2 linked regions of the Homo sapiens genome follow. The protein of the gene in region 2 purifies or fractionates together with the protein of the main gene of each other region. This does not show direct contact. Each region holds a gene or a part of one and is shown on either strand. Other genes may lie near its edges.

Evidence for each region.
Region 1: the proteins of SAP130 (region 2) and SUDS3 purify together in Homo sapiens (affinity purification with western blotting; 3 studies listed by BioGRID, with this or other methods). This does not show direct contact.

Annotation. Positions count from the first base shown.
Region 1 is NC_000012.12:118,373,710-118,389,875, forward strand, and holds the start of SUDS3 (sin3 histone deacetylase corepressor complex component SDS3), read left to right. Parts: upstream 1-2,845; 5' UTR 2,846-2,982; coding exon 2,983-3,124; intron 3,125-6,452; coding exon 6,453-6,522; intron 6,523-7,260; exon of another isoform or gene 7,261-7,979; coding exon of another isoform or gene 7,980-8,125; intron 8,126-8,150; exon of another isoform or gene 8,151-9,675; intron 9,676-10,302; coding exon 10,303-10,358; intron 10,359-12,404; coding exon 12,405-12,476; intron 12,477-13,695; exon of another isoform or gene 13,696-14,336; coding exon of another isoform or gene 14,337-14,388; intron 14,389-16,166.
Region 2 is NC_000002.12:127,979,739-127,995,904, forward strand, and holds part of SAP130 (histone deacetylase complex subunit SAP130), read right to left. Parts: intron 13,571-16,166; coding exon 13,449-13,570; intron 10,129-13,448; coding exon 9,826-10,128; intron 7,225-9,825; coding exon 7,047-7,224; intron 1-7,046. UniProt on the Homo sapiens protein: Acts as a transcriptional repressor. May function in the assembly and/or enzymatic activity of the mSin3A corepressor complex or in mediating interactions between the complex and other regulatory complexes.

The sequences.
Region 1 (16,166 bases), on a different chromosome or scaffold from region 2:
TTTCCAGGGCCACAGGTTTTAATGATTCTATGTGAACGTGTGGCCAAAGGATAACGAGCTTTGACCCAGGTTTAACATGTGATAATCAGAGACTCCTCTTGATCCACGCTAAAGGATAGTGCCTGCCAGGGGTGAAAGTGCATCATGCTACTAAGACCCATTTGTGTTATTTTTGTGAAACTGGATATGCTGATCAAATCAACACCGGAAACAGAAAACTGCTTTCCTTACTCTTAACGCCAAAAGTAAGTTTATGGACTTTAGAATTTAGCATTTTATGAAGAAATTGTCTCAGGAACACATTTTGATCCTAAGTTTTGTCAGATGTATACAGGCCTTAGTTCTCAGAGAACCCTCGATTGTTAACTTTTTAACTCCAGCTGACAAAATGTGTTTGTGTTCTAAACAGTATACATGTTTCTTCTAGTGTTTTAAGAATCATACGCCATTCATCACCTGAGGTCAAGGGTTCCAGACCTGCCTGGCCAACATGGTGAAATCCCGTCTGTACGAAAAATACAAAAATTAGCCGGGCATGGTGGCACCCACCTGTAATCCCAGCTACTAGAAAGGCTGAGGCAGGAGAATCACTTGAACCCGGAGGCGGAGGTTGCAGTGAGTCGAGATCGCATCACTTCACTCCAGCCTGGGTGAAAGAGCAAAACTCCGTCTCAAAAAAAGAAAAAAAGAAAAAGAAAAAAAAGAATCATACTCCATTCCAATTGTGATGTCCCCCTTTAAAGTTTCAGTTTGGGTGTTAGGGTAGGCAGAGAAGGCCTGGAAGCAAAGAAGTTGTGGAAATGGGGCTGGCAGGGCTTCGTTTCAAGTCAAGTCGAGTTCCTGAGCGGTGTGGCTGAGTACCGTTTTGAGAAGGGATATATAAAAAGATTTCAAGGTGGTAAAACTTGGTTTTGAGGGAACTTGATTTTTACAGGAGTATAGCGACTGTCCAAAATCATATTAAATAAATCTAAAGGTTAGGTAAGACTAAAGCCATAAGAGAATTTTTTTGAGTAGGTCCACCTTCACTAAAGAGCATTTTTTAGTTCTGCAGCTGGCAATCTGGACAGAAAAAAATGGGGTAAGTTTTCATAACCCAAGTGCTCAGTTGTGTCTATTCATTACATATAAAAAAGAAATGCATGACCATTAACAGATGCTGTTTGCAGTCAAGAAGACAGCAGTAAAACATAAGCAGGATAAAAATCTCAGCGTCTTGAAAGGAAACCATTTAGCAACGAAATAAACTTAAAAATTAATTGTATCAATGAACTCTTGATTTCTAAAATCTTTGCTTTTTCTGCACTATGATTACTGCTACTGACAGGAACGCAAGTTACTCAATATAGTTGATTGCAAGTAATTTAGATGTTCTCCAACAGCACAAAGAAAGAAAATGACTTCATCTTTTGGACAAGAGACAGTTCTGGAATCCTAGTTTAAATATAGATGGCAGACCTACGGTGCGATCTGAGAATGATTCTTATTTAGAAGGGGCTTCAGAAGATCTCAGAACTCCTGGAAAGACATCTTAGCATTCCATTCTGGAAATTCTTTAGTTTTGTTGGGAGAAAAAATCACTTACAAATAGAGCCAAGATTTTAATTAAAACAAGGTAGTAAATAAATGTCAAAATAAGTGGGATGAGAATAACGTTTCATTTTCAGAAGAGTCCATAGGGAACAATTCAGAGATAAATTTAATCACAAAAGGTCTGAGAATGGGAATATTCGGTTCCACCCTGGTTTTCACATCTGTTCATTTTCACTACTGGTTGCGTTTCCTACGGAGACTCGGGTGGAACATAAAAGTGGGGCTACTTTGGACAAACCATTAAAAACCTTACCCTTTTTTCTCGCTACACACAACTAGACCACATTGCTCTTAGCTAAAGGGACACCTTAAATCTATTCGTTCAGCAAAACTTATAACACCGTGTTCCTTTTCTACTCAGAGGGAATCGCACAAATTAATTCTTGCAGATACTCAGCTCTCCTGTTTTTTAAGCTTCCACGTGGGCCTTAGCCAAATAACTTCTGGTAGGCAAATTCTCCCCTTCTTCAGTTGAGAGCTCAGAGCAAGCTGTTGGATTAAGCAAAAGCACCTTTTAAAAAATTAATATTCAAGGCAGCTGTACCGCGGAGGGCCTGGGTCTCGGAGTCTAAAAAATCAGACTGGACGTTACTATTTTTTTTTAGGCAAACGACAGCTCGTTTCTCATTTGTAAAACCGGGGGAACATCTTACCGAATAAACCTTACACAAACAGAAAGGATTCCTAAGGGCTGGGAAAATACTATTTTGCTGTCCCCAGGATGGAATATCAGCATCCTTGTCTTTTAGCTCTTAATAAAGCTCTAACTAGTCACAGGAGGAGCCAGGCTGCATGATCACGCACACTCTGGACGTCTAGGTTTTCCGACCTAATAAGGGGGCAGGTCGCGTCGTTCCCTGCTTAAATTAGAGACCACCTCCACCTGCCAAGGGCCCTTCAAACCCTCCGCCCCTAGGTCGCTAACGATCACCGCTTTAGTTCTAGCTCCAGGCGCCGCCTGGCGGCTGTCTCCGGAAGTCGCCTGCGAGCCTCGGGGTCCTGACCGCTGCTGGGCCTGCCCGTAGATTTGCCTGACTCTAGCGAACCTGGCTCCGCCCCTCCCCCACTATACGTTGAGGATTTTAAGACGGCGATGAAAGGGCTGAGGTTGTGGCGACGGGGGCGTCCAGCGGCATCTCCACTCCCCCAAGGATGGCGGAATCAGGCCGTTGTCGGGCAGCTCTCGACCCGGAAGTCGCTCGCGGCGCGAGGCCCCCGTTGCCGAGCGCGGGCGCGGGGGGCGGAGCTCGGCGGAGACGGGGAAGGGGTCGCCGTGGCTGCCGGTCCTCGAGTTGGGGGCTGCCGCGGACACTGCTAGGCAGACGGCGAGTACCGAGCGCGGGTGGCCGCGGTGTCCGTGGGCCACGCTCAGCTGCGGTCAGAGGCGACATGAGTGCCGCGGGGCTGCTGGCCCCGGCCCCGGCCCAGGCTGGAGCGCCGCCGGCCCCCGAGTACTACCCCGAGGAGGATGAAGAGCTGGAGAGCGCCGAGGACGACGAGCGCAGCTGTCGGGGCCGCGAGTCGGACGAAGGTGAGTCCTGCCGCTCGCCCGGCCGCCCGGAGCGGAGGTGGGACCGCTGGGGGAGGGGGTGGGGCTGTTCGGGAGAGGGGCGGGGCGGCCTCCGGGGCCTGGGGCTGCGTGGAGGGGCCGCCGGGAGTTGCGGGGCTCGGGGAAGTTACCCCCATCCGTGCTGGAGTAGCGGGGAAGCCCTGGGTGCGTTACACTCGACCGTGATGGGGAGAGGGGACTTAGATGTTGTCACGCTGGGGGTCCCTTTAAGACCCCGTCCTCCCTCCCAGCCGTTTCTGATTGAACCTCACTCACTAGTAGGAATTAGAAACTCATTTACTGAATACATCGAGTGTAGTTCGCCCCTTTTTTGTGTGTGAGAGCATCAGAGTCCAAAGTTGCCCCTCCCCACCCCCGAAATGCATAAGTCATCTATACTTTAGGTAGTACACTATTGAGAACTCAGGTTGGTTAAAGGAAAGGGACCTAGAACCAGCCAGATACAGGTTTAAATTTGGCTTTGTCACTTAACTCAGCTTTGTAAACTTAAGTTTTCCAGCCTCGATTTACCCAACTGTAATGGAGCTGTTTAATTCCCACACCTGCCCTAGAAGGCACTTCCTAGGGTCGGTATAGGGATTAAATGACATGCGCATAAAGTACTTGGCCTGGTACTGTAAATACTCCGTAAATGTTCTCCCCACCCGCCCCCCTCCCGGAAACAGGTAAGAGAGGGAGAGATTTGCTTAATGGTCCCCAGGTGTTGTGTTTTCAGTCCCACGCTCTTTGCACTGTCATCACAGAGTCTCAGAGCCTTGCTTTTCAAACTGGGCTTTATAATTTGGCAAGTGTGAGGAACGCTATTTTGGAGGGATGGAGGAGGAGGAAGGTGATGAAATGTGAGAGATCAAGGGAGGAGAAATAGGAAACAAAGAGAGACCGATATATGAGCGGAATATTCTGGGACAAAATCGGGCCGTGGAGCAAAAGCTAGACCAGCTGTTTGGAATGGGGCCTACGTTTTATTCATCTGAGTTTCCCGAGTGCCAAGTAATGTGGCTGACCATGACAGGAACTCAGGGAAGGCCTCTTGACTGAAGGAGGGGAGAAGGGTTTGTGGGGAATTGGATCTGCAACAGCCTTACAAAAGACAGCTGCATATGCATGACATACAAAGTTGAGGGACTGCATTCGATTTAATTCCATCAGAAGACACGGCTTAACCAGAGATTTTGAATGTGAAGCACTTGCACTTCATCTCATACCCACGAGGGGGCGCTGTGGAGCCAAAATTGAGTTTTTTTTTCCTTCCAGTATAGGGGCTATTAAAATTTTGTACACACCCCAGCCATTAGCTTGTTCTAAGAACAATGTTTAAGATGTTCTGAAACAGTTTTCGTTTGATCATCTGGCCTCCTCCTTGTTCCCTTTAGTTGTAACTTGGAAAATATTTATTTGTGTCAGATTCCCCTTTTTTATTGTATACAGTTGGCTCTGCGTATCTGTGGGTTCTGCATCTGTGAATTCAACCAAGCGCAGCTCAAAAATATTCAGGAAAAAAATTGGATCTGTACTGAACATGTGCAGACTTTTTTTTTGTTATTCCTAAACAGTGTAGCGTAACAACTACTTACATAGTATTTACATTTTATTGGATATTGTAAGTAATCTTTTTTTTTTTTTTTTTAAGATGGGGTCTCACTCACTCACCCAGGCTGGTGTGCAGTGTCACGATCTCAGCTCACTGCAACTTCCATCTCCTGGGTTCAAGCAGTTCTCCTGCCTCAGTCTCCGGAGTAGTTGGGATTACTGGCACCTGCCACCATGCCTGGCTAATTTTTGTGGTTTTATTTGTTGTTTTGTTTATTTTATTTTTTTTTGAGATGGAGTTTCACTCTTGTTGCCCAGGGTGGAGTGCAATGGCGCGATCTCGGCTCACCACAACCTCTGCCTCCCGAGTTCAAGCAATTCTCCTGCCTCAGCCTCCTGAGTAGCTGGGATTACAGGCATGTGCCGCCACCCCCAGCTAATTTTGTATTTTTAGTAGAGACGTGGTTTCTCCATGCTGGTCAGGCTGGTCTCGAACTCCCGACCTCAGGTGATCCACCTGCCTTTGCCTCCCAAAGTGCTGGGATTACAGGCGTGAGCCACTGCACCTGGCCCTAATTTTTGTGTTTTTAGTAGAGATGGGGTTTCACCACGTTGGCCAGGCTGGTCTGGAACTCCTGTCCTCAGGTGATTCTCCTGCTTTGGCCTTCCAAAGTGCTGGGATTACAGACATGAGCTGCCATGCCTGGCCTGGATATTCTAAGTAATCTAGAGATGATTTAAAGTGTACTGTTGGCCTGGTGCAGTGGCTCATGCCTGTAATCCCAGCACTTTGGAATGCGAAAGCAGGTGGTTCACTTGAGGCCAGGAGTTCGAGACCAGCCTGGCCAACGTGGCGAAACCTCATCTCTACTAAAAATACAAAAAGTAGCCGGGTGTGGTGGTGCACCCCTGTAATCCCAGCTATTTGGGAAGCTGAGGCAGGAGAATCGCTTGAACCCAGGAGGTGGAGGTTGCAGTGAGCCGAGATTGTGCCACTGCACTCCAGCCTGGGCGACAGAGTGAGACTGTGTCTCATTAAAAAGAAAAGTATACTGGAAGATGTGCGTAGGTTATATGCAAATACTATGCCATTTTGTCAGAGACTTGAGCAGCTGAGGATTTTGGTATCCACGGGAGGTGCAGTAACCACTCCCCCACGGATACTGAGGGACAACCGTGTATCCTGATGTAAAATGTGCGAAGGGTTCCAACTGGGTATGTATCAGAAGAGAATGTACATACTAGTTTTTTTCTGGAGCAGCGAGTAAGGCTTGACTGCCTGCAGTGTCCAGTCTTACGCCTGCATCTCCTTTCTTGAGTTGCCAGCATTGTTGTTTCTGCAGAAGTAGCAGCCTTCACCATAACTGCCTGTGCCTGAGACACCCTATTCTGTGGCTGCATTTCAGGTAAAGGCAAGCTTTTTGCATAAATCTGACTGTAAGTTGGAAATGGCCTTTTCTTTTCTGAAGTACGGCTGTCCCTCGGTATCTATGGGGGACTGGTTCCAGGACTTCATGGATACTACAACCTGAGGATACTCAAATTCTTTGCATTGGCCTTTTGTGTCCACAGGTTTCGTGTTTGCAGATAGGGATGGCCTACTAACTGTATGTAATGTTTTTCATTGATGGCTTTGTGCAAGCCTGCCTTGAATAGAAATTGATTTTACGGGAGTTTATTGAGTGCATACTCTGTGTCAGGTGACGCCAACTCCGTGAATTATGATTTTAACTAGCCCCTATTTCCTAACTTTATTCAGACACTGAGGATGCTAGTGAAACTGACCTGGCAAAGCATGATGAAGAAGACTATGTAGAAATGAAGGAACAGTGAGTATGATATGCCTATGTCTTTTTGGAACATAGAATTGACAACATCTTTATATAGATTGAGCATCCCAAATCTGAAATCTCAGATGCTCCAAAATCTAAAACTTCCTGAGTGCCAGCATGATGCTCAAAGGAAATGCTCATTGCACTATTTCAGATTTCAGATTTTTGGATGTGGGATGCTCAGCTGGTAAGTATATTGCAAATAATCTAAAATTTGAAAAAATCCAAAACACTTCTGATCCCAAGCATTTCAGATAAGGGATACTTAATCTGTAGTAACCTTGTGTGTATGAGTTTGACCATAGCGCTTCCAAAGACCATGTATGTTTACAATTTCTCCACTTTAAATTAATTACATTTAATCAGTCTTCCCGTTATAAGACTTTGTTGAGTACTCTCTAGAAAGAATCTTGAGGGCAATGGACCCAGGGGAGGGAATGAGGCCGTACAACAGGAGAGGACCTTTTACTACTTACTCTTTTTTTTCCTTGAGACAGAGCCTTGCTCTTTCGTCCAGACTGGAGTGCAGTGGCAGGATCTCCTCACTGCAACCACCGCCTTCCGGATTCAAATGATTCTCCTGCCTCAGCCTCCTGAGTAGCTGGGATTACAGGTGCACGCCACCACGCTCAGCTAATTTTTGTATTTTTAGTAGAGACAGGGTTTCACCATGTTGGCCAGGCTGGTCTCGAACTCCTGAGCTCGTGATCCGCCCACCTTGGCCTTCCAAAGTGCTGGGATTACAGGCGCGAGCCACTGCGCCCGGACCTTTTTTTTTCTTTTCTTTTTTAATGGGCAAACCAATGCACAGAGAGGGTAATTGTTGTCTTGAAGCAATTGGGTTCTCAGGTGAGTGTAAACTCACTGCACTAATGTGCTAGACAAGGTGCCGGAGGCCTGGAGAGCTCAGAGAAGCCACGATTGAAAAGCAGGCTGCTGACTCTTATTTATTTATTTATTTATTTTTATTTGTTTAATTTTTTTTTTTGAGATGGAGTCTTGCTCGGTTGCCCAGGCTGGAGTGCAGTGGTGCAATCTTGGCTCACCACAACCTCCACCTCCCAGGTTCAAGTGATTCTCCTGCCTCAGCCTCCCAAGTAGCTGGGATTATAGACATGCACCACCATGCCCGGCTAATTTTTGTATTTATTTATTTTTTTTGTGTGGAGATGGAGTGTCGCTTTGTTGCCCAGGCTGGAGTGCAGTGGCCTGATCTCGGCTCACTGCAACCTCTGCCTCCTGGGCTCAAGCAATTCTCCTGCCTCAGCCTCCCGAGTAGCAAGGACTACAGGCACATGCCACCATGCCCGGCTAATAATTTTCGTATTTTTAATAGAGACGGGGTTTCTCCATGTTGGCCAGGCTGGTGTCAAAACTCTTGACCTCAGGTGATCCACCTGCTTTGGTCTCCCAAAGTGCTGGGATTACAGGCGTGAGCGACCCTGCCTGGCCACATGCTGACTCTCAGGCCAGTGCTCTGTCCACGTTTGCACCTGCTCTCACCCAAACCTTCTCATTGTCTTCAGACAGAGCCACAGCCGAACAGATTCAGAGAAACGAAAACCTCACTCACTTTTAGCGTACACCCAGATGGAAAACGGTATAAAGTATATTTAATGTATATTTGTTGAATGTGTTAGGTTTTTAAAGTTCTTTACCTTTTAACAGGATGATCCACATTCATTTCCCTTTAGGTCCTTTTTGCAAATGTTTTGTGGCCATCCTCTGGATTCTCACATTGTTTTTGTGCTTTGGAACTCAAAGGGGTAATTCAGCTAGGTCTAACCAGTGCTGAATAAAGATGGATTACTTTTTTTTTTTTTGAAACAGAGTCTCACTCTGTCACCCAGGCTGGAGTGCAATGGCATGATCTCGTCTCACTGCAACCTCCACCTCCTGAGTTCGAGTGATTGTCATGGCTAAGCCTCCTGAGTAGCTGGGACTACAGGCATGCGCCACTACGCCTGGCTGATTTTTTTGTTGTTGTATTTTTAGTAGAGACGGGGTTTCACCATGTTGGCCAGGCTGGTCTTGAACTCCTGACCTCAGATGATCTGCTTGCTTCAGCCTCCCATCGTGTTGAGATTACAGGCCTGAGCCATCGTGCCAGGCCACTTTTTTTTGAGACAGTAGCCACTTTTTTTTGAGACAGTATCTTGTTTTGTTGCCTGGGCTGGAGTGCAGTGGCATGATAGCAGCTCACTGCAGTCTCAACCTCTGGGGCTCAATCCATTGATCCTCCCACCTCAGCCTTCCAAGTAGCTGGGACAACAGGCACGTGCCACCACGCCCAGCTGATTTTTAAAATTTTTAGTAGAAACTAGGTCTCACTGTGTTGCCCAGGCTGGTCTTGAATGCCTGAGCTCAAGCATTCCTCCTGTTTCGGCCTCCTGGAGTGCTAGGATTACAAGAATAAGCCAATGTGCCCAGCCTTTTTTTTTTTTTTTTTAAGAGACAGGGTCTTGCTCTGTCGCCCAGGCTGGAGTGCAGTGGCATGATCTCGGCTCACTGCAACCTCCAGCCCCTGGGTTCAAGCTATTCTTCTGCCTCAGCCTCACGAGTAGCTGGGATTACAGGCGCCCACCACCACGTCTGGCTAATTTTTTTTTTTTAAGTAGAGACAGGGTTTCACCATGTTGGCCAGGTTGGTCTCGAACTCCTGACCTCAAGTGATCCACCCGCCTCGGCCTCCTAAAGTGCTGGGATTACAGGCGTGAGCCACCTTGCCTGGCCTCCCTTAGTATTTGATGATACAGAAAAAATTTCGGTTAAAATGGAATGCCTTGTGTAATTCAAGGGGAAATCTAAAGTGCATCAGAATTTGCCCTGAAAGAGTGAGATGTGTGTGAGTCTCAAATTCTGCCTACTCTCCTCCCCTTACAGAGGGTTGGGTTGTATTTGCAGCCCTTATTTGAGCGCTAAAAAGGTTATCACGCCCATGTGCTCACTTCAGCAGCACATATACCAAAAGGTTATTGTGCTTGTTATATGTTGGACAGTGTTCTTTCAGATCACAAATCTTGTTTTTATCACTGTTAAATTGAGGGTGTTTTTCAGGTAGAAGCAAAAATACTTGCTGAAATGTGATTTATATGTGGAACCCACCTTCAAACCAACTTGCTGAAGTTATGACTGCCTATAATCCATTAGGTGTGAGAGGAAAAAACTAACATGCCAAATGCTTTTGCTTCGTGTGTGCTGTGTATTCCCATCCAGCTGGGGCTGCCAGTAAATGCTGCCTTTTAACTTTTCTTTCTGAATTACTATTATTTCTCTGATCCTAAAAGAGTAGTGCTTTAAAAAATGACATGAAGGTTTATTGACTTAGTTCTTACACTGCTAAGCATATCTGCATAGAAAAACATGCTGAAGGCATAATCTTACTCTCCTGTAACTTACAATCTAATTGTAGAGTTGATGTAAGAGTTGTGTTTAATGCCATTTCTACATTGTGTGTGTGCTTGCCTGTTTATAATTGTCATTTATTAAAATCTGCTATCGTTGCAAGTTTTAGACGGATTCTGTAAAGATGGGATAACATGGGAGAATCTACAAAATTAGAATAAGATTGAGGAACACAGGGTTCTTTCTTGTTCCTTTCTGATCCCTGTGGCTGCTGGTGCATTTTAAGCCAGCAAGCAGACTTTACTTTCCTCTCTTCCCTGAAGGACATTAATGACCTTCCCATAACAGCCCAGCTAATTTCTGTGAGTAGGTTATTTTGGAATTGAGTATTGAATGTTTTTATCTGTTAGTGTGACTTTTTTTTTTTTATAGGATGTATCAGGACAAACTGGCTTCTCTCAAGAGGCAGTTGCAACAACTGCAAGAAGGTTGGTGTGTGATTGAATCCTGCATTTCTAAATATGCTTCTTAATATTACAAACCCTTGAAATCTGTGTATTTCACTTCTCTGTGGGAGTTATTTAAAACACGGTCTGGCTGATCTTAGCTATCCAGTACATTTTGCTATCTTTTGCTGTCAGTAAAGTGGTGATTTTCCAGCTCCTTGATTTTGAAACATTTATTTCCAGTATGTGTGAGATTCTTTCTTCAAATGAAATCTCACTTGGGACTTTCAATGGAGCACGAATTGAACGCCACTGTGCCTAAAGCTAGAGATTTTTAGGAGAGACATTGTTATCAAAGAATAAAGTTTTTACTGTTTTTTCTAAACCAAATGTTAATGACCTTGTGGATTATTCACACTGTGTTTTCTCCTTTTTGCTTGTTACATTAAAAGTAGATTGTATTTTGTCAAATGCTGCTAGCTGCTAAAGGCAGTGCAGCATCAGAGTTAAGAGTGCAGGCTGTGAGGCCAGGCGCGGTGGCTCACACCTGTAATCCCAGCACTTTGCGAGGCCGAGGCGGGTGGATCACGAGGTCAGGAGATCGAGACAATCTTGGCTAACATGGTGAAACCCCGTCTCTACTGAAAAATGCAAAAAATTAGCTGGGCGTTGTAGTGGGCACCTGTAGTCCCAGCTACTCTGGAGGCTGAGGCAGGAGAATAGCGTGAACCTGGAGGCGGAACTTGCAGTGAGCCAAGATCGTGCCACTGCACTCCAGCATGGGCGACAAAGCGAGACTCAGTCTCAAAAAAAAAAAAAAGAGTGCAGGCTCTGGAGTTTTGTGAGGGATTGGAATCCCAGTTTCCCTGCTTCTAGTAATGTGACCTTGGACATGCCAGTTTCTCTTGTTTAATCTGTTTTCTGATCTGCAAAATGAAGCAAGTAAGAGTAGATGTGATTATGCATGAGGAGCGTCTAGCACAGCAGTGTGCACACTGCAAGGTCCTGGGGACAGTTAGCTGTGGCAGTGAGCTCTTCGGTTTCATATTGTGGAGTCCCCTTGTCAGTGAAACTGTTTTTGCTTTTCTTTTTTTTTTTTTCGAGGCTGAGTTCCGCTTTTGTCACCCAGGTGGAGGGCAGTGGCGCGATCTCAGCTCACTGCAACCTTCACCTCCTGGGTTCAAGCGATTCTCCTGCGTCAGCCTCCCGAGTAGCTGGGATTACAGACGCCTGCCACCAGGCCCGGCTAATTTTTGTATTTTTAATAGAAACGGGGTTTCACCACATTGGCCAGGCTGGTCTTGAACTCCTGAACTCAGGTGATCCGCCCACCTCAGCCTCTCAAAGTGCTGGGATCACAGGCATGAGCCACCATGCCCAGCCTGATACTGCTGTTTCTACTATGTGCTTTTATTGCTGGTGAGTGATCCACGCCCTTGGACTAGCCCATGGTCAGGCATTATAATCAGGAAACACTTCCCCCCACAAGATGGGCCCCTCATAATTAACTGTTTTGTGGGAAGAGCAATGAAATGAATAGCGATTTGGTTAGAATCTATACCTGAATTGTTTAATGCTGTCACTAGCCACATGTGGCTGTTTAAATTTAATTAATAATTTAGTTCTTCGGTTCCACTAGCTACATTTCAAGTGCTAAAATAGCCACAAATGGTTAGTGCCTGCCATGTTGGACATTGCAAATATAAAACACACCATTGCAGAAGGTTCTACTGGAGAGCGTTGACCTAGACCTTACTGAAGGAGAATGAACCTTTTCCAGTAAAGGAAGGCCCGTTGATTCAGACTGTTGCAGCAACTGATCAGAATAGTGTGGAGATATTGGCAATTTTCCACTCCCCCTCACTCACTACAGACCCTTGATCCACTGGGTTGGGTAGACTTTGAATGGGCCCCTAGTGGTTTCTGCTGTGTGCCTTGGTTAAGAACCAGAGTTAACTTTGCTGAGGTGTGTCTTCCTTTGGTGTTACTGAAACAGTCAGTGTTGATGCTAGATAATAATTTTAGGAAGCAAAATGTAGAGCAGATTTATATTCACAATAATTTTATTTTTCAAATGTTCAAAATCAGGTACATTACAGGAATATCAGAAGAGAATGAAAAAACTAGATCAGCAGTACAAAGAGAGGATACGGAATGCAGGTAAGGCTCCTTTAAATGGCAATGAATCATCTTTCAATGTTTGACCATTTGCCGATCGTCGGTGTAATGCAGCCCTAAGAGCTATTCTCCAAAACATATCCCAGATACTCTGTCAGGGAGAGTTTTCAGAAAAGAGACTTCCAAGCTGCAGTTATGGAAAGTGGTTTCATCTTCTGCTTCTGTTGCTAAGGAATGGCCCAGAAGTGGAGGGTGTCTGAGGAGGCTCCTTGGAGTTAGGTTGTTCTCCCTGGTACCCCAAGAGTAGTCTTGCACCCTCTTGCTCATTTCTGCATGGCTGGCCTGATGTACAGTCAGAAGTGCGGATGAGGAAAAGGATTGTAGGTTGTTTTTGTCCCATTTTAAGTTTTTTTTTTTGGTATTTTGTGCTAGGATTGGGGAGGGTCTTCTTGTTATTTTCCCCAAGTATTGTTTTTATAAGAATTTAGAGAAAACGCACACTTGATTAGTTGTATACAGTAAATGTATTCATTCAACAAAAATGAATTGAGCACCTGCTACATCTAAGCACTGCGAGCAATATAAAGTCATGTAACACATTGCTTTGACTTTAGGACACTTGGTGTTTCATTGACAAAAGATACCACATGTATAACGTGTAAAGTTAAGGAACACCGAGTTAAAGAGCCATGCAGAAAGTAAGATGTGACAACTGTTTAAAGTGTGTAAACATGGATTCCTGAGGTTACAGGAAATCGCGTGTATGTGTTGAATTTTTAACGCTCATCATCAGCCAGCAGTTTGGGTGCCAGCAGAGTCCTTGTTCCTGCGATGGTAGAAGTAATGATGGGTTTTAAAATGAGGGTTGGGTGCCACTCCTCATGCTGCTGTCATCTTTCATTCTGGGCCAGTGACTCTCCAACGCTTCACTGTGTCTCCTCAGTGAGAAGCTGCCCAGTGCACACCAACAGAGAGAAAAGGGGTTGAAGTGTGGGTGGGCGCTGAGAAAGTGGAGCCCCAGCTATTAGCTGTCTGCCTTTCCACCTTCTACCTCTCCCTGCTGTTACCCCCTTTCTACTCTGAGTTCCTGAAGCACCTCCTTGAGATGTCTTGAAAATCCTCAACCGGTTGCTCTTCCTAGACTTCCCTTTTAGCAGATAAAGGAGGTGGCATTTGTGGAAGGAGGTCCTGCCTCCTCACTTTAGATCTGATCCTTTAAGCAGAATATTTGCTCTTGAAACCTCAATTTCTCCATCTGTAGAGGGGAATATTAATACCTCATGGAACTGGCATAAGATGGAAGTAAGGAAAGAAAATGGATGTGAGTCATATTTCTGAAGTTAGAACAGCAGAGTGAGTATTGAGTTGTTTTTCTTCATTCTGCTCAGACTCTCAATCATGTCCTCATGTGTTCTTTTTTTTTTTTGAGACAGAGTCTCACTCTGTCACCCAGGCTGGAGTGTGGTGGCGCTATCTCAGCTCACTGCAACCTCCACCTCCTGGGTTCAAGCGATTCTCATGCCTCAGCCTCCTGAGTAGCTGGAATTACAGGCGCCTGCCACCACACCTGGCTAATTTTGTATTTTTAGTAGAGATAGGTTTTCACCATGTTGGCCAGGCTGCTCTCAAACTCCTGACCTCAGGTGATCCGCCCGGCTCGCCTTGGCCTCCCAAAGTGCTGGGGTTACAGGTGTGAGCCAACGTGCCCGGCCCTCATGTGTTCTTTCACATTTCTCTCTCCTAGGTAAAAATGCAGAAGAGCTCCTAAATCAGTCACGACTTGAGCTTTAAAAAGCACATTCTTTTCAGAGATGATCCACCTGCTTTAGTGGTGTCTGGCTGCTTTAACTGAAACAACTGCCACCTCTAAGTGCTAATTGTCATTTTGACTTGGTGCAAGGCATGATTTCTCGGAATGGCACAGGACTTCAGCTGTCTGGCCCACTTGTGCATGGTACAGATCTGAAGCTGTTATAGGAATGATCACATTGGGTTGGGTGTGCCTGGGTTCCTATGCCCAGCAATTCCCAGTGCCAAAGTGGGTAGGACTTCTGGGGGCTAAAAAATAATGAGTGGCTTGTCCCTTTCCTCAGTTAATTTTCTCTGTCAACAACTGTTAACATCTGGGCTTTTAATCTGGGGTTCCTAGAACTGTCAGAATTCTGTGGAGTTTGTATATGTGCTTTGTTCTGGGGAAGGGGTCCATAGCATTTGCCAGGTTTGCAAAGGGGCCCCTGGTAGACTGAGAATAGCACACCCTGGAGAATCTTTGTGGACTGTACGCACAGCCCCCTGTCACCCAGGAAAGAGTAGAAGCCATGGAGCAATTTTGCTTCAAGTTGCGGGTTTGTAGACAGGTTTGTGCTCTATTGTAAATCTAGTGGTGAGGGGAGCTGCTAGGTAACAGTTACTAATCATCCGGCACATGGTAGGTGCTAACTAAGTTGTTGAGTGCTGTTAGATGGGTGCTTTAAGGCATCTGAAGGGCATGATGTGTGAAGAGTCAGCAGGAAAGGCCTCAGGAGGGGGCTGCATTCAGTCAGGAACTTGGGAATGTGAATAGGAGGTCAGAGGGCATTGCAGGGACAGACAGCGTGAGCAGAGCTTGGTGGCCTGACAGTGAAGCCCCAGGTGTCCCTGGAGCCTCTGTCCTATGGATTATCTGTGGAGGTCCTTCCTTACCACATATAGCCCTTCATATAGTGCTTTAAAAAGGAGGTCCTGGCCGTAGGCAGTGGCTCACGCCTGTAATCCCAGCACTCTGGGAGGCTGAGGCTGGCGCATCACCTGAGGTCAAAATTTCAAGACCCTCCTGGCCAACATGGTGAAACCCCGTCTCTACTAAAAATACAAAAATCAGCCAGGTGTGGTGGTTTGCGCCTTTAATCCTAGCTACTTGGGAGGCTGAGGCAGTAGAATTGCTTGAACCCAGGAGGTGGAAGTTGCTGTGAGTCGAGATCATGCCACTGCACTCCAGTCTGGGTGACAGAGCCAGACTCTGTCTCAAAAAAACCAGAACCCCCCAGAAAACCAGGGGTCTCCATCCTTCAGGCTGCGGACCACTGGGCTGCTTTCCCCCACCTGCCGCCTGCCCCCCTACCCTGCCCCAGCCCGTGGGAGAATTGTCTTCCACCGAACTGGTCCCTGGTGCCAAAAAGGTTGGAGACCACTGCTTTAAAACATCACATCCACTCTGTTTCTGGAGTAATTGCATTATTTCTTCTTGACCCATCCTGCCACTGTGGAGACTGTTGGCGGGTGGACTGAGTGAAAGATGGGATAAGTTTATTTTGCCAGGGGAGTTTGGTTCCTGCTGCACGTTTTTTGCCCTCAGGCAGAACTGCCACAGCTGATATGTTCAGGGCCACATTTTTTTTTTTTTTTTTGAGACCAGGTTTCGCTCTGTCACCCAGGCTGTAGTACAGTGGCACAATCTCAGCTTACTGCAACCTCTGCCGCTCAGGTTCAAGTGAGTCTCCTACCTGCCTCAGCCTCTCGAGTAGTTGGGATTACAGGCGCCTGCCACCATGCCTGGCTAATTTTTATATTTTTAGTAGAGATGGGGTTTCGCCATGTTGGCAGGCTGGCAGGGTCACATTTTAACTAGACTTGAGTACTTGTCATGTCCTTTCCCTTCGTGTATATCAACATTTCACTGATGAAAACATTTGCTTTGTAACATGCTTTCAGAAAGCAATTACTGCTTCTAAATGAATGCTAACATCACTGTCT
Region 2 (16,166 bases):
ATGGTATCTAGGATTTGCTTCAAAATAATATGATACGAGCAGGTAGGTAAGCATATAGGTGAAGCAAAATTAGCCAAGAGCTGATAAGCTGAGAACTAAAGTTGGGTGACAGGCATATATTCCTATGTTCAAAATTTTTTTCTTTTTTTTTTTTTTTGAGACAGAGTCTCGCTCTGTTGTCCAGGCTGGAGTGTGGTGGCACGATCTCAGCTCACTGCAATCTCCGCCTCCTGGGTTCAAGTGATTCTCCCGCCTCAGCCTCCCGAGTAGCTGGGATTATAGGTGCCTGCCACCATGCCCTAGCTAATTTTTGTATTTTTACTAGAGACGGGGTTTCACCATGTTGGCCAGGCTGGTCTCGATCTCCTGACCTCAGATGATCTGCCCGCCTTGGCCTCCCAAAGTGCTGGGATTACAGGCTTGACCCACCGTGCCTGGCCACAGGATTTTCTTATGTTTAAACTTTTCCATAACAAAAATAAGGATAAAAGTTAAAAAAGCAAGACCAACTGCATTGCTGCCAACCCTCCCACCCCCAACACTGGCCAAAAACTAACCAAACCAAAAACAAATTTAAAAAAAAGAACCTAATGCGAAACATCACTATAAACCGACAGAATGACCAAACTCACAAAGACTGCCCAGAACAAGTGTTGGTGAGGATGAAACAATGATTACTCCTGGTGAGAGTGTAAATGGGTAAAACCACGCAGAAAACCATGCTCCATGAAAGTTTAAAACAAGCACACCCTATGACATAGCAAATCCCTCAGTATTTAACAGAAACGTACTCATGCATGAATCAAAAGTCATGCACAAAAATGTTCAGGGTATCATTACAGGAAAACATGGAAGCAACCCAAATAACCATGGATAAAACACGGTACTGTTATACATGGTATTTTATACAATTAAAAAATTACAATCAAGGCCAGGTGCTCACGCATGTAATCCTAGCACTTTGGGAGGCTGAACCAGGTGGAATGCTTCAGCCCGGGAGTTCGAGACCAGCCGGGGCAACATGGTGAAATCCCATCTCTACTAAAAATACAAAAACTGAGGTGGGAGGATCACCTGAGCCTGGGGAGGTAAATGCTGCAGTAAGCTGTGATCGCGCCACCACAGTCCAACCTGGGAGACAGAGTGAGACCCCCATCTCAACAACAACAACAACAAATTCATAGGCAATAATGCAGATGAATTACATAAAACCGAGTGATGAAAGTCAGACTCACACAAAAAAATGCACATCATATGATTCTATCTATCCATTGGTTAGTTACCTTTGGGAAAAGATGTTGGTAACTGTTAAGGTCACCACGACCAGACCATTTCCTTCCCCTCCCACAGGCCTTACAATACAGTCCCTTGCACTCTCCTCACAGCTACCCGAGGGCAAAAGACAAACCCCCACCCCACCCTTCACTGACCCCTCCAGTAACTGTCCAGTTACAGGATGCGGTTAACATGTCTGTTCACCTCGCACAACAAAGCTGGCAAAAAACATCTCCAGGATGCGGGTAAAGACACCTGTACCCGACTCAGCACTCCCACCCTGACCCAGTCCTCCTGCACCCCCAATTCAGCTCCCCCACCCCAACCCAGTCCTCCTGTACCCTCGACTCAGCTCCCTCACCCCGACCCAGTCCTCCTGCACCCCCGACTCAGCTCCCGCACTCCGACCTAGTCCTCCTGCACCCGACTCAGCTCCCTCACCCCAACCTAGTCCTCCTGCACCCCCGACTCAGCTCCCTCACCCCGACCCAGTCCTCTTGCACCCCTGACTCAGTTCCCCCACCCCGACTCAGTCCTCCTGCACCCCTGACTCAGCTCCCCCACCCCGACCCAGTCCTCCTGCACCCCCGACTCAGCTCCCTCACCCTGACCCAGTCCTCCTGCACCCCCGACTCAGCTCCCCCACCCCGACCCAGTCCTCCTGCACCCCCGACTCAGCTCCCCCACCCCGACCCAGTCCTCCTGCACCCCCGACAGCTCCCTCACCCCGACGCAGTCCTCCTGCACCCCGACTCAGCTCCCCTACCCCGACCCAGTCCTCCTGCACCCTCGACTCAGCTCTCCCACCCCGACCCAGTCCTCTTGCACCCGACTCAGCTCCCCGACCCCGACCCAGTTCTGGCCCTACAAAACCCTGCTATAGTCTGTAAGGGGGGCTGCCTCCTCTAACTGTGGTGGAGCAGCCAAGCAGCTCAATAAAGCTTGCTTGCCTGACTTTGGGTCTCCTCATCCTTTCTCTTGGCTGACCTTACAGTAACATTGTTTCTTGACCTATACAGTGGTTGGACACTGTTTATTTTGAGACTATACATGCGTCTGTGACATTTTCTATATACTTCCATGAAAATGATGAAAAAAAGACGGACAGAAGAACTGGACACAGCAAACACAGACAATTTCTTTTTACAAAGAAGAGCAAAAAAAAAAAATTTAGGGTGGTAGATAGTAGAGCAAAGTGAGCTCAACAGAAGGATATTTCATACAGAAGAAATGACGGCATGTTTATACTGTTTATGTGAATGATCTACTAACAAGAAAAAGCTGAGGCCGTAGGAGAGAGGGGGAGAAGAACTAGAGCATCATTCTTGAATAGACAAGAGAGGAGGAGACAGGGCATGTTGGAGAGGAGCCCATAGAGCTTGTCTAGAGGAACAGACAGAGGCAGGACATGGGGTACTGCCACCGTAAGTATTATAGATGTGATAGCTGCAGACTGTGGAAGTTGTCTTTTGATTTTCTTTTTCTCAAAAAAGGAGCAATTTGTCGACTAACAGTGAAGACGGAAGAAGCCTGGGAGTTTTGAGAGAAGGAAACGTAAAATAGTTATCTGGAGTGGTGCAAGAGAGTATACTTTGATGGGCTGCTTTAAGACCTTAGTGCGTCTGCGAGGCTAAGCAAGACCAGTTGGCAAAGTGGCTTTCCCTGCTGCAATTTGCTGTACATGTGCCAGCGTAAATGAAGCAGAAAGTTGGATTTAAGTCTGGTTTTGACAAAGCGAAGTGGGATGGGGGTTAAGGAAATGACTGCAAGTGACCACAGACTCTGAATCAGGAAGAGCAGAGAAAGAGGCCATGAGAGGCAGTGAAGAACATGAAAAGGTGGATCAATGGACTGGAGGCTGCTGGGGTCCCTCTGGAGCTGGAGTTCCATTGGGAGGGAGGTGGGAAGAAAGAAGATGGGCTAGGGGCATGGGAGCACAGAGACAAGGTCAGGAAGGCTCACTGAGCTTATGTGCTAAGTGCCCAAACTGGTGGGGAGGGTGGAGGCAGGAGAAGCATTCAAGCACCTGAGGGGCCAGGGAGCTGGAAAATCATTTCTGATCATTAAAGGTGAAGAGAGGGTTCCACTATCACTAAAAAGTGCCAGACATCATGTCCTTCCAAAAGGCATACAGATACACCTGCAAAATCTAACTTGACTCTGCGCCTCTAGATCTGCCCTGCCCAACAAGAAGGCCATATGGTACTACTGAGCAACTGAAATGTGGCAAGCGCAACTCAGGAACAAAATTTTTAATGTTATTTCATTTTAATTAATTTGAATTTTATAATGGATACTCGATCCAGTTACTGAGAAACTTTTTATTGTCTGGAATAACTTGGCTATGTGAAACTACTTTTTCAACTGTACATTTTATGAAATCTAAATACAGATCAAGTGCTTTTGAGGAGAAATGGTCTGAAAATGGCAGTGAGGCATGACAAGGACACCCTGCCTACCTCCAGGCTGAGTGACAGTAGGGATGTGGAAGAGAGGCAGGGACCACTTTAGACAGCTGCAGGGCAAGTTGAGTCCCAGGTTTAAAGCAAGAAGGCGTGGAGAAAGAAGAGACAAGGGCACTGGGGTGGAGGTTGGAGTGTCATGTGATGACAGGCTGTGAATTAGAGGGCACAGTACAAGGGTCTTTGGGAGGAAGTACGGGAGAAGCAGGCACATCTCTTTGTCTCCAGTGCTGCCAAATTTCAAAATACTGGCCTGAGTTTATTGCATCCATTGAATACTGTGCAGGGCATTTCTGTAACCAGGAAACTCATTTCTTTCAGTTTTGGTAATTTTCTATTACTTTGTTGTTTTTTTTTTTTTTTTTTTTTTTAAACATTTATCTATGTATTCAGAATCACACACAAGTTACCTTTACAGTTCAATTTACTATATAGAAATCATTGGGTTTTATATTTGCAGTTAACTTTTGAACTGAGATTACAATATTATAACAAACTCCTTACTTTGTAATCCCTGTTCCTTTTCTCTGATCTCTCTTGTTGAAACCCATTACCTGGAGGCTGGATTTCCTGACCTGGTTCTTTTTATTGTTGTTTTAAATTTTCTCCTATCGTTTTCTCCAATTTTCTTGTCTTTTTGTTCCACGTTTGAGATTTCTTCAATTTTATCTTCCAACTCTTCTACTGATCTTTCAATTTCTGCTATCTTATTTCAGGACCGGTTCTTTTCTCCTCTGAATGTTCTTTTTGCATAGCACTGTGTTACTGTTTTGTGGATGCAACCTTTTCTTTTGTCTTTCTGAAGGCATCACGGATACTGTTTGCTTATCCTTGCTCATTTGTTTTGTGTTTTATTCTCCCTGCCAGGCCTCTACATCTTCCAAGGTGCTTTGGGCATGTATTTATTGTGGTTTCTGTCTTCCACCGTTAGAGGTCCCCTCAGATATGTGCCTATCTTTGGTTGTATGTTCATGATTAAGAGTCGGGGAGAGGGACTGAAATGCTGGCTGGGAGCTCTGAGCTTTGGAAGGGCATGTCTACTATGAGGTCCACTGTAGGGTAATCTAACCCTGTCCTTAAGGAAGCCCTAGTGTCAGTATCTTTAGAGCTTCCCCTTGGGCTGGATAGACTCCCCAGAAGGAAAGTAGAGTCCTCTTCTCATTTTCTATCTAGAATCAAGTTCACCTGCCAGAGTTCTATCAGCTGAAAGCAGGGAGTGGACTGGGAAGTGTTCAGCACTCCACACACACACGGTGAGTCACAATCTCTTTCTGGTAAAATACTCATGACCTCTATAGTGCTGGGTGACCCTAGCGGACCATCTGCAGAGTTTGAACTTTCAGGCTCCTGCTAAAGTCGGGAAGGGGCAGTACACCACATGGCATAGGTAGAAAATGGGATTCTGGGCTCTAACTTTAACACTTTTCAAACTCAAAGGTTTTAACTTATCCTCCTTAAAGGACAGAGCCCCTTCCTTCGCCCCCAGGATTTGCCTGTTGTTGGTCCTTTTGAAGATTTTCCAATTTTAAAAGAGGATGGTTCTCAACTTTCCCCTACGCAAGCTTCACATTTAGCTTTCTCAGAGCCAGGACGCCATCGCGTGATGGTCTGCTTCCCAGCTTCAGTTGCTACTGTGTCCTCTCCTGTTCTCCCCATCCTTGTGTGTTTACAACTTTTTTGAAAAAAAGTTATATAGGGTTATGAGACAGAAAGATTTTAGATGTGTGTAATCAATCTGTCATCTTAACCACAAGCTTTGCCTTGTGTTTTTACTAATAAGGTAACTTTGTCATGGACTGACTTATCCTTTAAAAAAGTACAAAGTATTCATAAACAGCAAAGATAGGGACTCTGGTATATGCACAGCTCTGTGCAAATAAAAACCCTGCATGGACCCTAGTCCCAGCAATTTAAGTTTGCACTTGCTTTAATCTTTTGATGTTGATGCTATTAGCTCAGCTGAGCCACAGAAACTCTGCTCTCTGAAACATGTCTGCTCATCTCCCACCTCCAGAATGTTTAACTCAAACAGCACAGCACATACCTTCCTGCCTATGATCCACCAACTGAGAAGCTTACATGGCAACACAAAACACTATCTGCTACCAAATATGACCCTTACTACACTTCAGAATTTGTTTGCCCACAGTGACATAGAAGGGGAGTAGGGAAGTGCTGGGAAGGGGCGGGTCCCTGGTGAGGGCTCCACCCCCAGCCTGTGCCCACGGATCTAGGTGAGGACAGGCATTTTTGTTTTCCTGCCCAAATGTTGCATTTCCCCCAGACCACCCTGGCCTGCTACGCCCTGATCCTGTGCCTGTAAAAACCTCCGAGACCCTAGCAGACAGGCACACAAGTGGCTGGACGTCAAGAGGAACGCATTGGCAAAAGACACAAGCAGCTGGACGGCGAGAGGACAGCAAGGGGAGCATGCCGGTGGAAGAGCACATGACAGACGCTGGCATGCCAGCAGGCCCCCGACCAGCAGAACGACGCAGTTTGGCCAGGGCAGTCAAGAGAGCTGGGGCCGCTCCATCTCCCTTCTGGCTTCCCCCATCTGCTGAGAGCTACTTCTACTCAGTAAAACCCTACACTCATTCTCCAAGCCCACGTGTGATCCCATTCTTCCAGTACACCAAGGCAAGAACCCTGGGATACAGAAAGCTCTCTGTCCTTGCCATAAGGCAGGGGTCTAATTGAGCTGGTTAATGCAAGCCATCTATGGATGGCTAAACTAAAAGAGCACTCTGTAACACATGCCCACTGGGGTTTCAGCTGTAAACATTCACCTCTAGACACTGCTGTAGGGTTGGAGCGACACAGCCTGCCTGTCTGTATGCTCCCCTAGAGGTTTGAGTAGCAGGGCAATGAAGAAGCGAGCCACTCCCACTGTTGCACGCCCTGCGAGGGGGACAAGGGAACTTTTCCCGTTTCAACAGCAACGATTCATGCTGAATGAAGTTTATAGTATGAGTTAAGGTAACTACCTACACAAGCCCAAGAGTTACTTATAAACTACTTTAAAAGTTCTATGATTGAAGTTCCAGAACTAGAGAGAATTAAAGCAGTATGCAACAGATGCTTACAAACTAACACCTCACTGACTCCAGGATTTGTTAAGATCTTACAGTCTCAGCTGGGTAAGGCTCTACTGAATAATCCTGTGGTCAAGTTGTTTTGGAGGAAATTTTAACACACCACAGAAAATGAGAGATGAGTTTGATACCAGCATTAGATAAGAGTGCCTATTATGTATACCAGTTATATCCAGAACCAGAGGTGTCATTCGGCACTACCAGGTCTACTCACCCATCTGTGGCAGGTTTCTTCCGGAGTATGCTTGGCCGTGGCGATGAGCCCTGGGCGGGAGCGTTGGTGCTAGCACTCTGGCTGTGGGTCTGCACCACGGTTGTTGCTGCTGGAGCAGCACTGAATGGATTGCTAATAGGGTTGGCCACAATTGTGGCTCCATCTGCCAACACCACTGCTACAGGAGAGAGGCAACAGGAAAGAACATTGAAGAGAGGGAAACAAAATGCCATAGAAGACATAAATAAAAATGATGAGACCACTAGAATTAGGTATCCATGTTCTAACTGTCCAATTTCAAACTGATAAGGGACAGGAGCACAATGTTCATCCGACAAAGAGCAGATAGCTAAATGGGAGCAGTTACTAAGTCTACTGATGCATGATCCATACCATTATTTTTTCTTTTTCTTTGTTTGAAAGAGAGTCTTGCTCTCTTGCCCAGGCTGGAATACAGTGGTGCAATCTCAGCTCACTGCAACCTCCACCTCCCAGGTTCAAGTGATTCTCCTGCCTTAACCACAAGAGTAGCTGGGATTACAGGCGTGCACCACCACACCTGGATAATTTTTGTATTTTTTAGTAGAGACGGGGTTTCACCGTGTTGGCCAGGCTAGTCTCGAATTCCTGACCTTAAGTGATCCACCTGCCTTGGCCTCCCAAAGTGCTGGGATTACAGGCGTGAGCCACCACACTTGGCCCATACCATTATTTTTTCTTTGCTCTATAATCACAGTTACTAATAAATGAGATAAGGTGAACAAAGTACATAGTATCTAGTATAGTCTCTCACTCTACTAGTTACTTTACATTTTTTACTGATATAATTCTTACCATCATTGTAATTTCCATTTTAGAGATAAGAAAACTGACAGACAAGAAAGGCTTAATACAAGAGCCACAAATAGAAAACACTATCTACCAGCCTGATAGCATGCTCCAATGTACACTTCAAGAAATGTACTCATTCAGTTTTTGTAAAATACCAATCTCTCTCAACCCTCAATAATGGTACCCTCCCCAGTCTATCTTTAGAAACACATTCAACTAACAGATATTTTAACTATACACTTAAAGTTAGCATCAAAATACTGGTGAGCATGAGATCATAATCAGAAAATACCTGTGTTTGACAGTTTTTGACCTATAAAAATGGCAATTTCATAGGAGTCAACTTAATATCATGAGTTTTCTGGCAGGTGCCCTTAAATATGTAGTACACCATCCTACCGGGTGGGTCATCATGGGTAAATTGCATCTCTATCATAGACATTTAGTTTAGTAATAAAAAATCAGAGAGACTTTGATTAAATAGTTGAATTCAAGGTCTACAGAACAATTAAAATTCATAGCTCCAGCCAGGCACAGTGGCTGATGCCTGCAATCGCAGCACTTTGGGAGGACAAGGCTGAAGGATAGCTTGAACTCTGGAGTTCGAGACCAGCCTGGGCAACAAGCAATATCCTGTTTCTACAAAAAATCAAAAATAATTACCCAGGTGTGGTGGCATGCACTTGTAGTCCTTGCTACACGGGTGTCTGAGGCATAAGGACTGCTTGAGCCCAGAAGGTCAAGGCTACAGTGAGCCATGATTGTACCACTGTGTTCCAGCTGGGCAACAGAGTGAGTGAGACCTTGTCTTTTTAAAAAAAAAAAAAAAAAAAAAATCAGTGCCTTGGCTGAGAAACAGCCATTTTGTTTTTTTAAACTACATTAGAGAAATGGCTAATCAATAATAATCCAAGTACATGGAATCTTAAATTCAGCCAAAAAAAAAATAACCTAGCTGGTGTAATGACTCATGCTTGTAATCCCAGCACTTTGTGAGGCCAAAGTGAGTAGACTACTTGAGCCCAGGAGTTTGAGACCAGCCTGGGCAACATGGCAAAACTCTGTCTCTATTAAAAATACAAAAATTAGCCAGGCATGGTAGCTTGCACCTATAGTCCCAGTTACTCAGGCGGCTGAGGTGGGAGGATCACTTGAGCCCAGGAGGATGAGGCTGTGGTGAGCCAAGATCACACACCACTGCACTCTAGCCTGGGTGACAGAGTGAGAATCTGTCTCAAAAAGATCTAAATACAGTGACTTATTCCATTTTTCAAAATGTTATTCCACTAGTATTTCTTTTTAAGAATTCATAATATTAGCTAACATCAGCATAAGGTTTTACAGCTTTATGTACAACTCTGAAGAAAATCTTCAATGAGAATACTACTTATAAGGTGAATTTTTTCCCACAACTAGGAGCTTTTAAAAAAGATAACACTTCTCATTATGTTCAAATGAATACTAGGGCTGTTGATGTATACTGTATCTTTTTTTTTTTTTGGAGACAGAGTCTCACTCTGTGGCCCAGGCTGGAGTGCAGTGGCGTGATCTCGGCTCACTGCAAGCTCCACATCCCCAGTTCACGCCATTCTCTCGCCTCAGCCTCCCGAGTAGCTAGGACTACAGGCCCCCGCCACCACGCCTGGCTAATTTTTTTGTATTTTTAGTAGACAGGGTTTTACCACGTTAGCCTGGATAGTCTTGATCTCCTGACCTCGTGATCCACCCGCCTCAGCCTCCCAAAGTGCTGGGATTACAGTGAGGTATATTATTTCTAACGTTTACAGTGACCCTGAAACTCTAAGTTCTAAGCAACTCATATTATTAATACAAAGAAGAAAAGGCCTAGAGAAATTATAAGACGACAAAGCCAGTGGCAGAGAAAGGATTTAAACCCAAATGTATTTCTTTTCTCCAAACCACCTTCTATGCAAAAATTTAAAATTACCTGAAGTCTTTCCTTCAGGCTGAGGCTGCTGAGTACCCATAGGTGCAGGCTGAAGCCCTTGTGTGTTGATTGGGGTTGCTGAGTGAATTCCCTGTGTGCCAAGTGGTGCAGGCTGTATCCCTGGGGTCCCAATGGGGGCCGGCTGGATACCCTGGGTACTGATGGGTGCTGGCTGGATCCCTTGAATATGTCGAGCATGCGATGCATCCACTGTCATCAACTGCATGGGGTTTAGGTGGACGGTAGACGCTACCCCAACACCAGTCTGAGCTGTGATGGCAGAGTTTGGAGCCTGAGCTGAAACTAAAAATGATGCGAAAGGTAACTATAAGAAGGTTAGCTTCATTTCACACAGTCCACATAAAGAGAGAAACACTAAAAACGGATTTCCTCCACTGTATAAGATCTAAATCCATGGTTTGAAAAAAAATAAATAAATAAACATTGTTACTTGAAACTTACTATACTTGGGATTGTTATTTCCTTTCACTTCCTACCAATATGATGTTGTTTTTCTACAGACTACTAGAAATATGATTAAAACAAGAAAAAAGGCAATCAGCTATTAAATTGCAAATATTAGCCAGGAAACCATGCTAAATAATTAATATAAAACGTCAGAAATACACCCAGAGGTCCCAGGTCAAGAACCTCTGCTTTAATTGATAGGGCCACTATCACAGGTGGTTTTGAAATACAGTAGTTATGAATTTCAAATGGCATGTATCCACCAGAAACAGAGAACAAGCAAGTGTCCTGTGTCTTACAAGGCAAACACCCCATCTACTGTGTATATTGAAAAAAAAAAAAGAAAACAAGAGCATTCACAGAAAGCAACAAAAAAGGAGGAATTTCTTACTATCTGTGGAAAGAAAATAAACACAGAGGACTTTTTCCTCAGTCATCAAAACAATCCAGAGATGTTGGAACTTGTTTTCAAAGCTATTTAAATATCTTACACTTATAAGCTACCTTTTCCCTAAATAAACAAGTATCTTACAATGTTTGAAATTTTAGACCGGCACTGTTCAATGGCATAGTGGGTCACTCACACAACTTTAAATTTGCCAGTGGCTACAATAAAAAAGTAAAAACAGCCCGGTGTGATGATTTGTACCGATGATCCCAACGCTTTGGGAGACTGAGGTATGAGGAATGCTTGAACCCAGGAGTTGGAGACCAGCCTGGGCAACATGGCAAGACCCTATCTCTATAAAAAATTAAAGAATTAGCTTGGCATCATAACACATGCCTGTGGTTCCAGCTACTCAGGAGGCTGAGATGGGAGGATTCCCTTGAACTCAGGAATTTGAGGAGGCAGTGAGGTATGATTGCACCACTGCACCCAGCCTGAGTGACAGAGAAAGACTGTCTCAAAAAAAAAAAAAAAAAAGTAAAAGAAACAGGCCAGGCACGGTGGCTCACGCCTGTGATCCCAGCACTTTGGGAGGCCGAGGCAGGCGATCATTTGAGAGCAGGAGTTCAAAACCAGCCTGGTCAACAGGGTGAAACCCCATCTCTACTAAAAATACAAAAATTAGCTGGGTGTGCTGGCGCATACCTATAATACTATCCACTGGGGACAGTGAAGCAGGAGAATCACTTGAAGCTGGGAGGTGGAGGTTGCAGTGAGCCAAGATCACACTACTACACTCCAGCCTGGGCAACAGAGTGAAACTCCGTCTCAAAAAAAAAGAGACAGACCAAATTAATTTTGATCATATATTTTATTTAACCCAATATATTCAAAATATTACCATTTCAATATGTCATTAATAAACATTTTTTTTGGGACAAGGGTCTCGCTTTCTTGACTAGACTTGAGTGCGGTGGTGCAAACAACATGGCTCACTGCAGCCTCAACCTCCTGGGGCCAAGCAATCCTCCTGCCTCAGCCTCCCAAGCAGCTGGGACTACAGCACGCACCACACCATGCCTGGCTAATTTTTGTATTTTTGGTAGAGACTAGGTCTCATCTAGCTTGATCTCAAACTCCTGGTCTCAAGCGACCTTCCTCCTCAGCCTCCCAAAGTGCTAGGGTTATAGGCATGAGCCACCGCACCTGGCCTAAAAATTCTTAACAAGATATTTTACATTCTCTTTTCTATATTATGTCTTCAAAATCTAGGGTATATTTTACTCTTCGAGTACATCTCATGAATTTTTATCAGAAATGCTTAATCTGTATTTTGATTTCATAAAGCCTACAACTGAAAAAGTAGTTTTGCATTGCTAAGTTGTTCCAAACATACTTGAAATTTCTTGAAATTAAACAAAATTAACAATCGAGTTTTTCATGTACTAATCTACTTCAAGTGCTCTGTGGCCACACATGCCGCTGGCTGCCATATAGCACCGTGTGGCAGGAGGGCAATGTCCACAATCCAGGCAGCAATAACACTTTCTTTTGTCTTTTTTGTTTTTTTGAGACAGGCTCTCACTTTGTTACCTAGGCTGGAGTGCAGTGGCGCCATCATGGCTCACTGCAGCTTCAACCTCCTAGGCTCAGGCAATCCTCCCACCTTAGCTTCCTTAGTAGTTGGGACTAGAGGCACGCACCACCATGCCCACCTAATTTTTTAATTTTTTGTAGAGATGGGGTCTCCTTATATTGCCCAGGCTGGTCTCAAACTTTTGGGCCCAAGTGATCTGCCCACCATGGCCTCCCAAAGTGCTGGGATTACAGGCATCAGCCACAGCGCCCGGCCCCAGGCAATAAGGCTTTTTTTTTTTTTTTGAGATAGTTTCACTCTGTCACCCAGACTGGAGTGCAGTGGCACAATAGTGGCTCACTGCAGCCTCCGCCTCCCAAGTTCAAGTGATTTTCCTGCTTTATCCTCCCAAGTAGCTGGGATTATAGGCATGTGCCACCGTGCCTGGCTAATTTTGTATTTTTAGTAGAGACAGGGTTTCTCCATGTTGGCCAGGCTGGTCTCGAACTCCTGACCTCAAGTGATCTGCCTGCCCTGCCTCAGCCTCCCAAAGTGCTGGGATTACAGGCATGAGCCACTGCACCTGGCTGGAAATAAGGCTTTCTGATGCCCAGAGTGACCTGAGGGTTCCACAGTAAAAGACTACACAGACTCTGACATTTAAGGATTGTTTTTCCTGGATTAGCAAAAAGAACACTATTCACACGTCATCATGATGAGAGGAGAGCATAACAACTAAAAAACATATAACTGGTACACCAAATCCCTGTGCATGCAATTTATCAATATAACAAACCTGCACAAGTACCATGGAACCTAAAGTAAAAGTTATTATAAACAAACCTTTATAAATTTTTTAAAAATATAGCCAAGATTTGCATAAAACAATGGAAACCCTATAAAAGTGCAGCTCTATTCATTGTAACTACTGTCATTTTAAGGAGTAACAAAAATTGTTAACATGAGTATCCTCAGGGTGGCATAATACTATGCAAATATCACTAATGAGTAACAACTTTTATAGATCACAAAGATGATTATTTAAGACCTTCAAGCTTCACATTTTATCTGAATCTGAAAACAGAAGCTGAAATAATTAATCTCATACAAAAAATAACCCCTCATCAATTTCTACATTATTGTTGGCAAAAGTTAAACTGTGAAAAGTCATCTAAAAAGCAGGGCTCATACCTGGATACTGTCGGATAGTGGACACGGAACTGGTGATTGGGGTGTAGGTATGTGCCGCCAGTGGGTATGCAGAAGGGGGGTAAGTTGGCAAAAAATATTGGAACTGAACGGGAACAGACGGTCTAGAGACAGAACAGATGATAGCAAACAAAATAGTCATTTTCTTCTTTACTTTCAAATGATCCTATACCCCAGTTCCTCTTTGTGTCCTTCAGAACTGTCAAACAAGCTTTGCTCAAATTGTGTCCCAAACAAACTCTTACATCACAGGACACACACCAAGAATGCAAAATTAAAAAAAAAAAAAGTGGATACTATAAATACCTATATCAATAAATGTAAAAACATAGATAATATTCTATGGGTGATTTTTGAGAGTAAGTCTGAAAACCAGTTCACAAAATCTCAGTAATCAAATCTTCCCTGCTCAATTCCTCATGAACTACACTCAACTCAAATTGGTTTTACTGGCCAATTTCATTAAAAATACATAAAACAAATAATCCCAATTTCATTCAAACTGCTTCAGAAACAATGGAAAGAAAAAATGGGATCCAATTTATTTTTATTTTTTTAGAGACAGGGTCTTGCTATGTTGCCCAGGCTGGAGCGTAGTGGTTATTCACCAGCACAATCATGGTACACTATAACCTTGAACTCCTAGGTTCAATCAAGCCTCCTGCCTCAGCTGCCTGAATTCTGGGACTACAGACATGTGCCACCGTACCTGGCTCCTAGTTTAGTTTTTGAGCTTAATATAGCCTTGTTACTAATATTGGAACAGGAGAATATGACAAAAGAAAGATTATAAACAAATCTAACTCACTACAACAACAAAAAAACCTACATAAAATTGAATTAAGTACCATATAAAGTTAAATACATCATGATCAAATAAAGTTTATCATAGGGAGAGAAATACTTCAACATCAAAATGTCTATTCATGTTTTAGATAAATTTTAAAAATTAAAAGAGAACAATAATTTAAAACCTAAAAGATAAAAATATTCGACAGCAGTCAATAGTTATTCATGATATAAATGCCTAAGAAAATAGAAGTAGGCCAGGCACAGTGGCTCATGCCTGCTATCCTAGCACTTTGGGAGACTGAGGCAGGTGAATCATTTGAGCTCAGGAGTTCGAGACCAGCCTGAGCACTCTGGGAGGCTGAGGCAGGCAGGCTATTTGAGGCCAGAAGTTCAAGACCAGCCTGGCCAACATGGCGAAACTCCGTCTTCTACTAAAAATACAAAAATTAGCCAGGTGTGGTGGCACACGCCTATAATCCCAGTTACTCAGGAGGCTGAGGTATGAGAATCACTTGAACCTGGGAGGCAGGGATTGCAGTGAGCCGAGACTGCACCACTGCACTACAGCCTGGGCAACAGTGTGAGACCTCATCTCTACAAAAAATAAAAAAACTTCGCCAGGCATGATTGCATGTGCCTGCAGTCCCAGCTACTCGGGAGGCTGAGGTGGGAGGATCATTTGAGCCCGGAAGTCGAGGCTGCAGTGAGTTATGATGGTGCCACTGCACTCCAGCCTGGGCAACAGAGCAAGATCCTGTCTCAAAAACAAAACATAAAAACAAATGAAAATGATAAGACCCTCTTGCTTTCCCCTCAAACTGTCCTTATTTGTAGGCAAAATAAACATGTACATAGGAAATTCATAAATCTATAAACATTTAGAGCTAATTTACAGAATTATTTAGAGAATCTATAAACATTTAGAGCTAACAGGAGTATTCAACAAGGGGGATGGACATATCAATGTATCAAAATCTGTAAGCATTCCTAGACACAAATGATCAAATTAGAACACTTAACAATAACCTGTTTTTGAAACTACTTTGTGTATACTGTATAGGGTTCTTTATGGGAGAGGCAGATACAAACATGGAATGGGGGAAGCGATGGGGTTGAACTAGAGATATCAGCATGAACTCAAATGTTCTTAAAATATTATATACTTTCTACCTCTGCCTGCTCAAAGGGCCTAGAAGAATGACAACCCATAGCAACAAGCAGGGCTAATGCCCAGATCTTGGTTTGTAAATGACAAGGGGCTCCTTGGAGAAACAGCAGATTTCACAGCCAGACAGATAAAGTTCAATAGGAATCTAGAATATCTCGTCATTGGAAAATAAGGAAAGGCTAGAATAGAGGGGATGGGGCGAAATCCACAGAAGCAGACAGAAAGAACCCCCAAAGACCAAATGAGATCATGTGAGCACCAAAATAGATGACAGCAATGGATTCTAATAATGAATAAAAGCAAATCTACAAGGCCGAGCCGATTAAAAAACAGTAAAATGCTCAACATAATAAATAAATGGGGGTGGATAAGAGAAAGTTTCTTTACGTCAGAATGCCAGCTAATATATATAGACAACACGTTAGAAAAACTCACTATTTTGCAACTATCATATTAATAATTGATTCAGCCAGGAATTAATAATAGATCTACAACTATTGAATGAATGTTTACTGGAGAACAGGATATTTATACTCAGATATTTCCATACAGATTACTTGTTTACAAAGGAGAAAAACATGCTTTTCCAGTAGAAAAAACCAGCAAACATCACCTTCACTAAGTAATGAATGTTAACATAACCAATACGGGAAAAACAGACAGCATGAGCTCTCTGATGCAATGGGAAGAACACACTGCTTACCTGGTATAACCTGAATGTAACCATGAAGAAACAACGT